Linked DNA regions of Homo sapiens. The protein of the gene in region 1 interacts with the protein of each later gene in a pairwise test. Each region holds a gene or a part of one and is shown in the gene's direction. Other genes may lie near its edges. The genes, in order: LSR, MAPKAPK5 and RARG.

Region 1 (3,648 bases):
CTGGCACAAAAAATCCAGCCAGGGCTGCAGGTTCCTTGGTGAGCTTTGCAAATCGTCCCCGACCTCAGTGCTGGCTCCGCACCATGTACCCCTGCTGTGCCGTTAGCCCTGTTCCCTCCCAGGCCTCCGGGCTCAGGGCCTGTTGTCTTTCTGCAGACTGGCTCTTCGTGGTTGTGGTATGCCTGGCTGCCTTCCTCATCTTCCTCCTCCTGGGCATCTGCTGGTGCCAGTGCTGCCCGCACACTTGCTGCTGCTACGTCAGGTGCCCCTGCTGCCCAGACAAGTGCTGCTGCCCCGAGGCCCGTAAGTGTCCCGCTCATGGCCACCCTGGTTTGGGCAACATCCTGCATCCAAGGGAAGGAGGTGGCCATCCACCTGCCCCCAGGACAGTGGCGTTGGTCTGGAGGGTGTGAATTTAGCCAGTGGGGAGAAAGTAGGCTGAGGAGGGTCTGCTGTTTAGATTGTCGTTTACTTCCTCCAACTTTTAGTTTATTTTTATTTATGTTGTTCTTTTCTTTTGTAAGTATAATCCATACACATGGTAAAAATGTCCAACAGTACAAGATACTAGTCACATGGAAGTAAAGCCCTCTAAAAAAACCAAATCTTGGCTAGGCGCAGTGATTACGCCTGTAATCCCAGCACTTTGGGAGGCCAAGACGAGTGGATCACTTGAGGTCAGGAGTTCCAGATCAGCCTGGCCAACATGGTAAAACCCAGTTCTCTACTAAAAATACAAAAATTAGCTGGGCATGGTGGTGATCGCCTGTAATCCCAGCTACTCAGGAGACTGAGGCATGAGAATCGCTTAAACCCAAGAAGTGGAGGTTGCAGTGAGCTGAGATCACGCCACTGCACTCCAGCCTGGGCGACAGAGTGAGACTCTGTCTCAAAAAAAAAAGAAAAAAAAATGTTAAGTGAAAAAGTTAAGAAACCAAACAAGGTTTACAACACTACATGATTTAAGCAAAAAAAATTTTTTTTGTTTTAGAGAAAGGGTCTCATTCTGTCATCCAGGCAGTGCAGTGCGATCATAGCTCTCTGCAGCCTCAAACTCCCGGGTTCAAGCAGTCCTCCCGCCTCAGCCTCTGGAGCAGCTGGGACTGTAGGCACACACCACCATGCCCAGCTAATTTTTTGATTTTTGTTTTTTGTAGAGACGGGGTCTCAGTATGTTGCCCAGCCTGATCTCAAACTCCTGGCCTCAGGTGATCCTCCCAAGTCAGCCTCCCCAAAGTGCTGGGATTACAGGCATGTGCCACCATGCTGGCCAATTTTTAAAAATTTTCTGTAGAGACAGGGTCTTGCTATGTTGCCCAGGCTGGTCTTGAACTCTTGACCTCAAGTGATCCTGCCTCAGGCTCCCAAAGTGATGGGATTACAGGCATGAACTACCACACCTGGCCTTAAACTTAAGCAAATTTTTTTTTTTTTTTGGAGACAGTTTCACTCTGTCGCCCAGGCTGGAGTAAAGTGGCGTGATCTCTGCTCACTGCAACCTCCGCCCCCCGGGTTTAAGCTATTCTCCTGCCTCAGCCTCCCGAGTAGCTGGGATATAGGCGCCTGCCACCACGCCTGACTAATTTTTGTATTTTTAGTAGAGACGGGGTTTTGCCATGTTGGCCAGGCTGGTCTCGAACTCCTGACCTCAGGCAGTCCGCTCCCCCGCACCCCTACCTTGGCCTCCCAAAGTGTTAGGACTACAGGTGTGAGCCACCATGCCTGGCCAAATTTAAGCAAATGTTTGAAAACACATACCCACAGGAATGCTGCACATTTTACCCAGCTACTATGTCTAGGGTCGTATCTAGCACACCAGCATGGCTACTGTGGAGAGCTGGGACTGGATGTGAGATGAGAGCTAAAGGGGAAGTAAGCAAACCAAGCAGGGGAAGGTAAGAGAAGACAGAAGACAGAGAGAGAGGGACCTAACTCTATGAGAGGAGTCAGACATGTGCAATTGAAAAAGACTTGCTCCTGTCTCTCTTCTGTGAATGTTTGTGAATATCCCAACGGGACACTTTCACAGAGGAGCTGATTGACGTGGTCACAGCCATCAGCCTTGGGACACCAGACCACAGTGTGTACACTAAGTGGCACTGATGGACACTTCAGCATCCCTCTAGCTGCTGTCCCGTTTCCCCTCCTCGGGGACCACAGCTGTTGCCAGTCCTTGGTTTCCTTCAGGAGGGTGTCTGGGTAGACCAGCCTGTGTGCACACAGTCCAAGATACATGAACAGTGAAGTGCCAGGCAATCCTTGCAAGCATGGGCAGGTGGAGAGCTGAGGCCTGCTTGACACCTTCCTGCTCAGAAGCCCAGTGAGCAGTTTCCCTCCCTAGGGCTCAGTGTCATCCCCTATAAAATGGGGCTTATGGCAGAGCTCACCACACTGGGTGCATCTGGGGATTTGGCGAGCTCATGTGCACACCATTGAGCATGGGGCCCAACCTATATAAAATATTCTACGTCTGTCAGCTGCTGGGCACTGCCACTATCAGCCTCAGTAGTGACTGAGGGACAGGGCACCAGTCAGAGCCCTGGTGCACACAGAGTGACCCCAGAGAAGCAGCCTTCCCTCTCTGAGTCCTGTTTCCTTCTGTTAGGTCCTGACTTCATGGGTTGTTGTTAGCATTAAGGAAGTCGCTGGCTAATTTTATAGTCATTGAAGTCAGTGGTGTGCAACCTGGTTCCTCAAAGGATCACTTCCCTGAAAAAATTCCACTGCTCCCTGGAGGCTTATGCAGGCCATCCCATCCCCTCCCTCTTGTTGTGTTCAGCTGACAGCTTTTTGCTCAGTGAGTAAGTGTTAGGTCCATTTCACAGATGGGCTGCAACCAAGTTTGCAGTGAACCCACTAAGACCAGAGCTAGGGCCAGGACTAAATGCTGGTCCCAATGCCACATTCCCCTGTCCCCACACCACATTTCCTCCATCCGGAGACCCTGTTACCCCAACCCAGGGCCCCATTAACTCCCTGGCAGAGGCCCTGTTACATCTGCTGCTGCCACAGCCTCCGCCCACCCTTCAGGAGGCAGCAGGTCCCACTGCTGATGATAAAGTTGCAGGCTGCCTGAGCTAATGAAGGGGCTTCCTCTAGGCTGTGCACTTAGTCTTCTGCTTCCAAACCAAATCAGAGGTGAGGCACCCTCTCTGGGCCCATCTCTCTCCTCCATTTTCCTGTTGGGGTCCCAGGGAGGAAGCCACTTGCCTAGGGCCCAGGAATTTTGCAAGCCTCTTGCCCTAGGGAGGAAGGAAGGGAGGAGGATCTTACCTTGAACTGTCAAGCCTAGAGCCTGGTGGGGCAGGCAGAAATGGGTGCAGTCCATGAGTTAGAAACACTAGAGGAGACACTTTGCTGCTTGGCCGGGGCAGGCAAGTTAATTCCCGAGGCTCCTGCCACTGCATCTCAATCTGGAAGGTGACCAGGTGGGCAGGACCCACGTCTCCCAGATGACTCATTTTTTCTAGAACAGGGGCTTGGCTGCCAAAGAGGATACTTGATTTCGGCTTGTGGGGACAGTGGTGGACCCAGCATCTGGGCTTTATATAAAGGGCAGCTTTGTTGCCCTGTAAACACACAGACCATGGGTGGCCACTTCTTCCAGTAAGTTAGCTGGGGAGTTGGAAGTTTAGGTAAAACCTTTTG
Region 2 (3,648 bases), on another chromosome or scaffold:
CACCTTGGCCTCCAAAATGCTAGGATTATAGGCATGAGCCACTGTGCTCGGCCTCTTTTTGCCCGTTTTAGAATTGCTTTTTTTTGTTTTGAGATGGAGTCTCGCTTTGTCACTCAGGCTGGAATGCAGTGGTACGACCTTGGCTCACTGCAACCTCTTCCTCCGGGGTTCAAGCGATTCTCCTGCCTCAGCCTCCTAAGTAGCTGGGATTACAGGCATGCGCCACCATGCCCAGCTAATTTTTTGTATTTGTATTTTTATTTTTTTATTTATTTTTTGTATTTTTAGTAGAGATGAGGTCTTCACCATGTTGACCAGGTGGTCTCGTACTTCTGACCTCAAGTGATCCGCCTGCCTTGGCCTCCCAAAGTGCTGGGATTACAGATGTGAACCACCATGCCCAGCCTAAAATTGATTTCTTTGCCTTATTGAGTTATAGGATTATTTATTTATTTTTTTATTAATTTTTTTAGAGATGGGGTCTCACAATGTTGCCCAGGCTGGTCTTGAACTCCTGGGCTCAAGCGATCTGCCTGCCTCAGCCTCCTGAAGTGCTAGGATTACTGCACCTGGCCAAGAGTTCTTTTTTTTTTCTTTCTTTTTTTTTTTTCTGAGACAAAGTCTTGCTGCTCTTGTTGCCTAGGCTGGAGTGCAATGGCACGATCTTGGCTCACTGCAACCTCCACCTCCCGGGTTCAAGTGATTCTCCTGCCTCAGCCTCCCAAGTAGCTGGGATTATGGGCATCCACCACCATGCCTAGCTAATTTTTGTATTTTTAGTAGAGACTAAAAATTTTAGTTTTGCCATGTTGGCCAGGCTTGTCTTAAACTCCTGACCTTGTGATCTGCCTGCCTCGGCCTCCCAAAGTGCTGGGATTGCAGGCGTCAGCCACCGCACCTGGCCTAGAGTTCTTTATAAACTGAATAAAAGTCATTTATCAGCTATGTGATTGGCAAATATTTTCTCCCAGTCTGTGGCTTATCTTTTCATTTTATAATGGTGTCTTTTGAAGAGCAAAAGGTTTTAAATTTTATGAAGTCCAGTTTAGCACATTTTTTTCTTTTTCTTTTATTTTGTTAGGACAGTCTCACTCCATCACCCAGGCTGGAGTGTAGTGATGCGATCACAGTTCGCTGCAGCCATGTCCTTCTAGGCTTAAGTGATTCTCCCTCCTCAGCCTCCTGAGTAGCTGGGACCACAGGTGTCTACCACCATGTTTGGCTAATTAAAATAACTTTTTTTTTTGTAGAGACACGGGTCCCACTGTGTAGCCCAGGCTGGTCTCCAGCTCTTGAGCTCAAGCAGTCGTCACACTTTGGCCTTCCAAAGTGCTAGAATTATAGGCATGAACCACCACGACTGGTTGTGAAATATCCTTTTTTTTTTCATAGATGGAGACTTGCTCTGTTGACCAGGCTGGAGTGTAGTGGCGTGATCTTGGCTCACTGCAACCTCTGCCTCCCAGGTTCAAGCAGTTCTCCTGCCTTAGCCTCCCAAGTAGCTGGGATTACAGGTGGGTGCCACCATGCCCGCCTAATTTTTGTCTTTTTAATAGAGACGGGGTTTCACCATGTTGGCCAGGCTGGTCTCGAACTCCTGACCTTGTGATCTGCCTGCATCGGCCTCCCAAAGTGCTGGGATTACAGGCATGAGCAACTGTGCCTGGCCAAAATACCTTTTTATTTCATATTGAAGATGCAGCTTTTACGTGGGTGCGAGAGTGCTATAAGAAAGGCATAACTATAGACTCTAATATTTTTCGAGAAAAAGTCATTGTGTCTTAAAAGGAAGGTAAAGGATCTAAAGTTGGAGAATTTAATGCCAGCAAAGGATGGTTTGATAACTGTAGAGAGGTTTGGCTTAAAAAAATGTCAGGGTAACAGGAGAAGCAGCTTCTGCTGACCAAGAGGCGGCAAACAAGTTCCCAGATGCCATTAAGAAAATCATTGAGGAGAAAGGATATCTGCTTGAATGGGTTTTTAATGCAGACAAAAATGCCCTGTTCTGGGGAAAACAATGCCACAAAGGACATTTATGAGTAAGGAAGAGCAGTGAGTGCCAGGATTTAAGGCAGGAAGAGCTAGGTTAACTGCCGTTTTGTGTAAACACAGTCAAGTTTATGATCAGGACTACCCTGGTCTATAAAGCTGCTAACCTCTGAGCCTTCAAGGGAGAAGATAAAACACCAGCTGCCAGTCTGTTTTTACCAAAAGAAAGCCTGGATAATGAGAACCCATTTTCTTTTTTTTTTTTTTTTTTGAGAGGAGTCTCGCTCTGTGGCCCAGGCTGGAGTGCAGTGGCACGATCGCGGCTCACTGCAAGCTCTGCCTCCTGGGTTCACACCATTCTCCTGCCTCAGCCTCCCGAGTAGCTGGGATTATAGTTGCCTGCCACCACGCCCAGCTAATTTTTGTATTTTAGTAGAGACAGGGTTTCAGCATGTTGGCCAGGCTGGTCTTGAACTCCTAACCTCAAGTGATCCGCCTGCCTCGGCCTCCCAAAGTGCTGGGATTACAGGCATGAGCCACCGTGCCCGGCCAGGACTGCCTTTTAAAGTTTTTTTGACACAATGCCCCTGGCCACTGAGAATCCCATGAGTTCAACACTAGGCTTTGAAGTGGTCTACTTGTCCACAAACAGTGTCTCTAATCCAGCCTGTAGATCAGGAGGTCTCAAGGACTTTTTGAGAAAGAGTCTGGCTCTGTTGTCCAGGTTGGAGTGCAGTGGGGTGATCTCAGCTCACTTCAACCTCTGCCTCCCAGGTTCAAGCAATTCTCATGCCTCAGCCTCTCGAGAAGCTGGAATTACAGGCATGCTCCACAATGCCTGGCTAATTTTTGTATTTTTAGGAGAGATGAGGTTTCACCATTTTGCCCAGGTTGGTCTCGAACTCCTGGCCTCAAGTGATCTGCCTGCCTCAGCCTCCCAAAGTGCTGGGATTACAGGCTTCAGCTGCCGCACCTGGTCCAGGACTTTCAAGACTCATTACATGGGATACTCTGGAAAAGATTGTTAACACCAAGGAAGAGAATCCTGATAGAATGTAGTGAAAGTCTAGAGGGATTACACCACTGAAGATGCCATTGTTATGGAAAAAGCTGTGGAAGCCATCAGGCCTGAAACAATAAATTCCTGGTGGAGAAAACTCTGTCCAGATGTGCGTGACTTCATAGGATTTATGACAGAGCTGGTTAAGGAAATCATGAAAGAGATTGTGGATATGGCAAAAAAGGTGAAGGGTGAAGAGTTTTAAGGTACAGATCTTGGAGAAATTCAAGAGCTAATAGACACCACACCTGAGGAATTAATAGAAGATGACTTGATGGAGATGAGTGCTTCTGTGCCAGACAGTAAGGAATAAGATGTACAAGAAACAGGGGCAGGAAAAAATTGACATTAGACAATTTGCCAGAAGGGTTCCAATTATTCAAGACTTCCTTTAGCTTTGTTTATGGAATATGGAATGGAACCTTCTGTGATACTGGCACTGAAGTGAAAGCAAATGGTGGAAGAAGGATTAGTATTGTATAGAAATGTTTTTAGAGAAATGGAAAAGCAAAAAAGTCAGACAGAAATGAGGATGTATTTTTGTAATGTTACACCAGATGTGCCTGCCTCTCCTGCCTTCCTTTCCATGCCCTTCACCT
Region 3 (3,648 bases), on another chromosome or scaffold:
CATCCCCTACCTCTGGGCCTGCCCACCCCATGGTCTCTCTGCATTTTAGTCTCTTGGCCCTTCTCTGCCCTTCATAGCAGTCTGTTATGGCTCTGACTGGTGGAGATACCCAGGCTGGGGTGACTTTTCCTCCCTAGCCCACTAACTGCCTAGAGAGGTGAGAAGTTCTGGGGCTCCTAGGAAAGCCAAACTTTTCCTTTGTCAGGGGATGAAGATAGGAACCACCTACTTAGCACTAGGATTCCCATCTCCTCTCTCTACCTCCTTCTCCTCCCCTTCCCCTGGGCTCAGGTTTAAACTCTTAGAGGGAAGCCTACTTTTGGGGGAGGAGAGGTTGCAGGGAGAACTTCCTAGAAACAGGGAGCCCAGGGATAAGAAAGAAAAGGAGGCAGAATGCCCGGGCGTGTCGCTCACGCCTGTAATCCCAGCACTTTGAGAGGCCAAGGTGGGCGGATCATCTGAGGTTGGGAGTTCGAGACCAGCCTGACCAACCTGGAGAAACCCCATCTCTACTAAAAATATAAACATTAGCTGTCTCAACAAAACAAAACAAAAAAAGAGAGAGAGAGAGAGAAAAAAGGAGGCAGAGAAGTAAAGTCAGCTGACCAAGAAGCAGCTCCTTGGCATCATACACTTGGCACAAGTGGGGGCTCCATCAACATCCTTAGATTTGAAGCAGTGGGTACAAGAGGGCTTACAGGGTGAGGAAAAATTGGAGACAGGAAGAATTGGGAGAGGAAACTGGAAGAGGGAGTGTTGAGGAAAACAGAGAGGGAAGTGCTTACTGAAGCAGAGTATGGAGGAAAATAAGGTACAAAGAGAACTAATATGAGACATTTACATCACATTTCCTATGTGCCCTACATTATGCCAGACACTTGACATTGGTTAATTTATTTAGTCCTCACAATAACCATATGAGGTAGGCCCTATTATTAGTCCCAAGTGACGCATGAAGAAACTGAGGCACAGAGAGATTAAGTGACATGCCTGAAGTCCCACAGCTAGCAAGTGGTGGGGTACAGTCCAGGTAGTCTGGCTCTAGAGTCTGTCCCCCTAACCTTTGCCTTGTACTCCTCTCCAGAGAGCTGTAGGGCTCCCAGGTTATAACAGAGTTATGTTTGCCTTCTCCAGGATGGTAAAGAGTTTGAATCTGGGCTCCCCCACTTGCAGCCATGTGACCTTAAGCCAGTCACTTCACCTCAGTTTCCTCATATGTGAAATGAGAATCATAACTCCCAGTTCACAGGACTGATGTGAGGTTTAGGTCAAATGCTTAGCCCAGTTGTGGTGATTCATGATCACTTCCCAATCTAGGAGTTCTCTCCACCAGAAGTCCTTAGACCATCATTCACCTTGGGACCTCAGTTTAACCTTTCCTGGAGCTCCTCTGGAGAGTTTCTCAGAGCCTGCATAACCCCCTGCCGTGCCCTCTCTACCACACTGCAAGGGCCCTGAGCCAGGGCAGGATAAACTGTAGCAGCACAGAGGGAGAAGACTGCAACTGAGAGAGGGTCACAGGGCTTGGAACCTCAGAGTGGTCATTCTCTCATCTCTCCTTTCTCTCTCTTTCTCCCTAGGACTTTTGGAGGCCCAGTGGGCAGGCCAGGCAGGGCGGGTACGGAGCCTCCCAGGCTGGGGCAGTGGGCATGGGCAGGGGCTGTGGCTGAAGACCTCGCCCGCCCACTGCAGACCCCAGGGGACTCTCACACCGCAGCTGCCATGGCCACCAATAAGGAGCGACTCTTTGCGGCTGGTGCCCTGGGGCCTGGATCTGGCTACCCAGGGGCAGGTTTCCCCTTCGCCTTCCCAGGGGCACTCAGGGGGTCTCCGCCTTTCGAGATGCTGAGCCCTAGCTTCCGGGGCCTGGGCCAGCCTGACCTCCCCAAGGAGATGGCCTCTCTGTGTGAGTCTCAGGGATCTTGGGGAATGAAGGCAAATGTTAACAAGAAGGCATCAGGAGGGTGGATGGTAAAAGAGTTGGCACCCCAGTTAGGAAGGCAGGCAGGGGACAGGGGTTTGGCCTAATGGAGTAGTAGTGAATAATGGAGGGTGGTAGTGGTGGTGAGGAAGGAGTTTGGATGTGGACTCAATGGAAGTGTTTGCAAATGAGAGTTCTCCTGTCAAATAGGATAGGGAGGTAGCAGGCCTAAAACTTGGGGGGTGGGTATCTAAAACTGCCTCCTGGGTCAGTCAACTAGTAGAGGGGAATACCTTTGTGTGGGCAGCTGGGGGTGGGTCTGGTGCAGCGTGAATCTGCTGCTTGCTTGCAGTGGGGAGTTGGAGGGAGCCAAACTGGGAAGCAGAGGAGTCTGGGAGGCCAGTCACCTGGCTCTGTGATCAAGAGGTGAAATTGGGTTGGGTGCAGTGGCTAACGCCTGTAATCCCAGCACTTTGGGAGGCCGAGGTGGGTGGGTCACTTGAGGCCAGGAGTTCGAGACCAGCCTGGCCAACATGGTGAAACTCCCCCTCTGTTAAAAATGCAAAAATTAGCTGGGCGTAGTGGCGCACACTTGTAGTCCCAGCTACTTGGGAGGCTGAGGCACGAGAATTGCTTGAACACAGGAAGCAGAGGTTGCAGTGAGCCAAGATCTTGCCACTGCACCCCAGTCTGGGCGATAGAGTGAGAATCTGTCTAAAAAAAAAAAAAGAAAAAGGCTCACGCCTGTAATCCCAGCACTTTGGGAGGCCAAGGAGGGCAGATCACCTGAGGTCAGGAGTTCGAGACCAGCCTGACCAACATAGTGAAACCCCGTCTTTAAAATTACAAAAATTAGCCGGGTATGGTGGCGTGTGCCTGTAATCCCAGCTACTTGGGAGGCTGAGGCAGGAGAATCGCTTGAACCTGGGAGGCAGAGGTTGCGGTGAGCTGAGATCGTGCCACTGCACTCCAGCCTGGGTGACAGAGCAAGACTCCATCTCAAAAAGATAAAAAATAAAAAAAGAAACCCCATCATTACTAAAAATACAAAAATTAGTGGGCGTGGTGGCGCATGCATGTAATCCCAGCTACTCAGGAGGCTGAGGGAGGAGAAGCACTTGAACCCAGAAGCGAAGGTTGCAGTGAGCCAAGATCGCGCCACTGCACTCTAGCCTGGGCGACAGAGCAAGATTCTGTCTGAGAGAGAGAGAAAAAAAGGTGAAATTGCTTTGAATTACATGGAGGCTGCAAAAAGGGGAAAGAAATCCTGTGCCAGGTCCCCAAAGATGTGTGGGGTCAGGAGACTGTGCTTCTTGGTTCTGGGGAGGATGGAAATGACTGCAAAGGAGGTAGCTTTTGTACCATAAGTAATCCAGAGAGGCAGAGGGGGTGTTCCAGAAGCATCCTCTCCTCCAGCGATGTGGATCTGGGCTCCTCCTCTCCCTGCAGGTCTGGCATAGAGCCTGCATGCTGTGCAGATCCCTACTTGTTCCCCAGGCCTGCCCTCTTTGGGTTAAGCCTTTGAGTGCTGACAGCAGCCAAGGCTTGGGCCTCTCCTCTCCTCCTCCCTCTGGGACCCCTCTCCTCCCAGTTGGTAGTCATTCCTCCTGGCCAGGCCATTACAGGTGGGGGTTCCAAGCTGGTTAAGAGAAGGCTTCAACTGGGGCCAAGAGAAGGTGATTGAAGGGCGGGGGAAAGAGCAATTTCAGAGACAGAGTTGGAGAGAA

Evidence for each region.
Region 2: the proteins of LSR (region 1) and MAPKAPK5 interact in a two-hybrid assay, tested with the Homo sapiens proteins (one large-scale study listed by BioGRID and IntAct).
Region 3: the proteins of LSR (region 1) and RARG interact in a two-hybrid assay, tested with the Homo sapiens proteins (one large-scale study listed by BioGRID and IntAct).

What each region holds. Positions count from the first base shown.
Region 1 is NC_000019.10:35,262,390-35,266,037, forward strand, and holds part of LSR (lipolysis-stimulated lipoprotein receptor isoform 2 precursor), read left to right. Parts: intron 1-156; coding exon 157-303; intron 304-3,648. UniProt on the Homo sapiens protein: Probable role in the clearance of triglyceride-rich lipoprotein from blood. Binds chylomicrons, LDL and VLDL in presence of free fatty acids and allows their subsequent uptake in the cells.
Region 2 is NC_000012.12:111,848,658-111,852,305, forward strand, and holds part of MAPKAPK5 (MAP kinase-activated protein kinase 5), read left to right. Parts: intron 1-3,648. UniProt on the Homo sapiens protein: Tumor suppressor serine/threonine-protein kinase involved in mTORC1 signaling and post-transcriptional regulation. Phosphorylates FOXO3, ERK3/MAPK6, ERK4/MAPK4, HSP27/HSPB1, p53/TP53 and RHEB.
Region 3 is NC_000012.12:53,225,620-53,229,267, reverse strand, and holds part of RARG (retinoic acid receptor gamma), read left to right. Parts: intron 1-1,580; 5' UTR 1,581-1,722; coding exon 1,723-1,906; intron 1,907-3,648.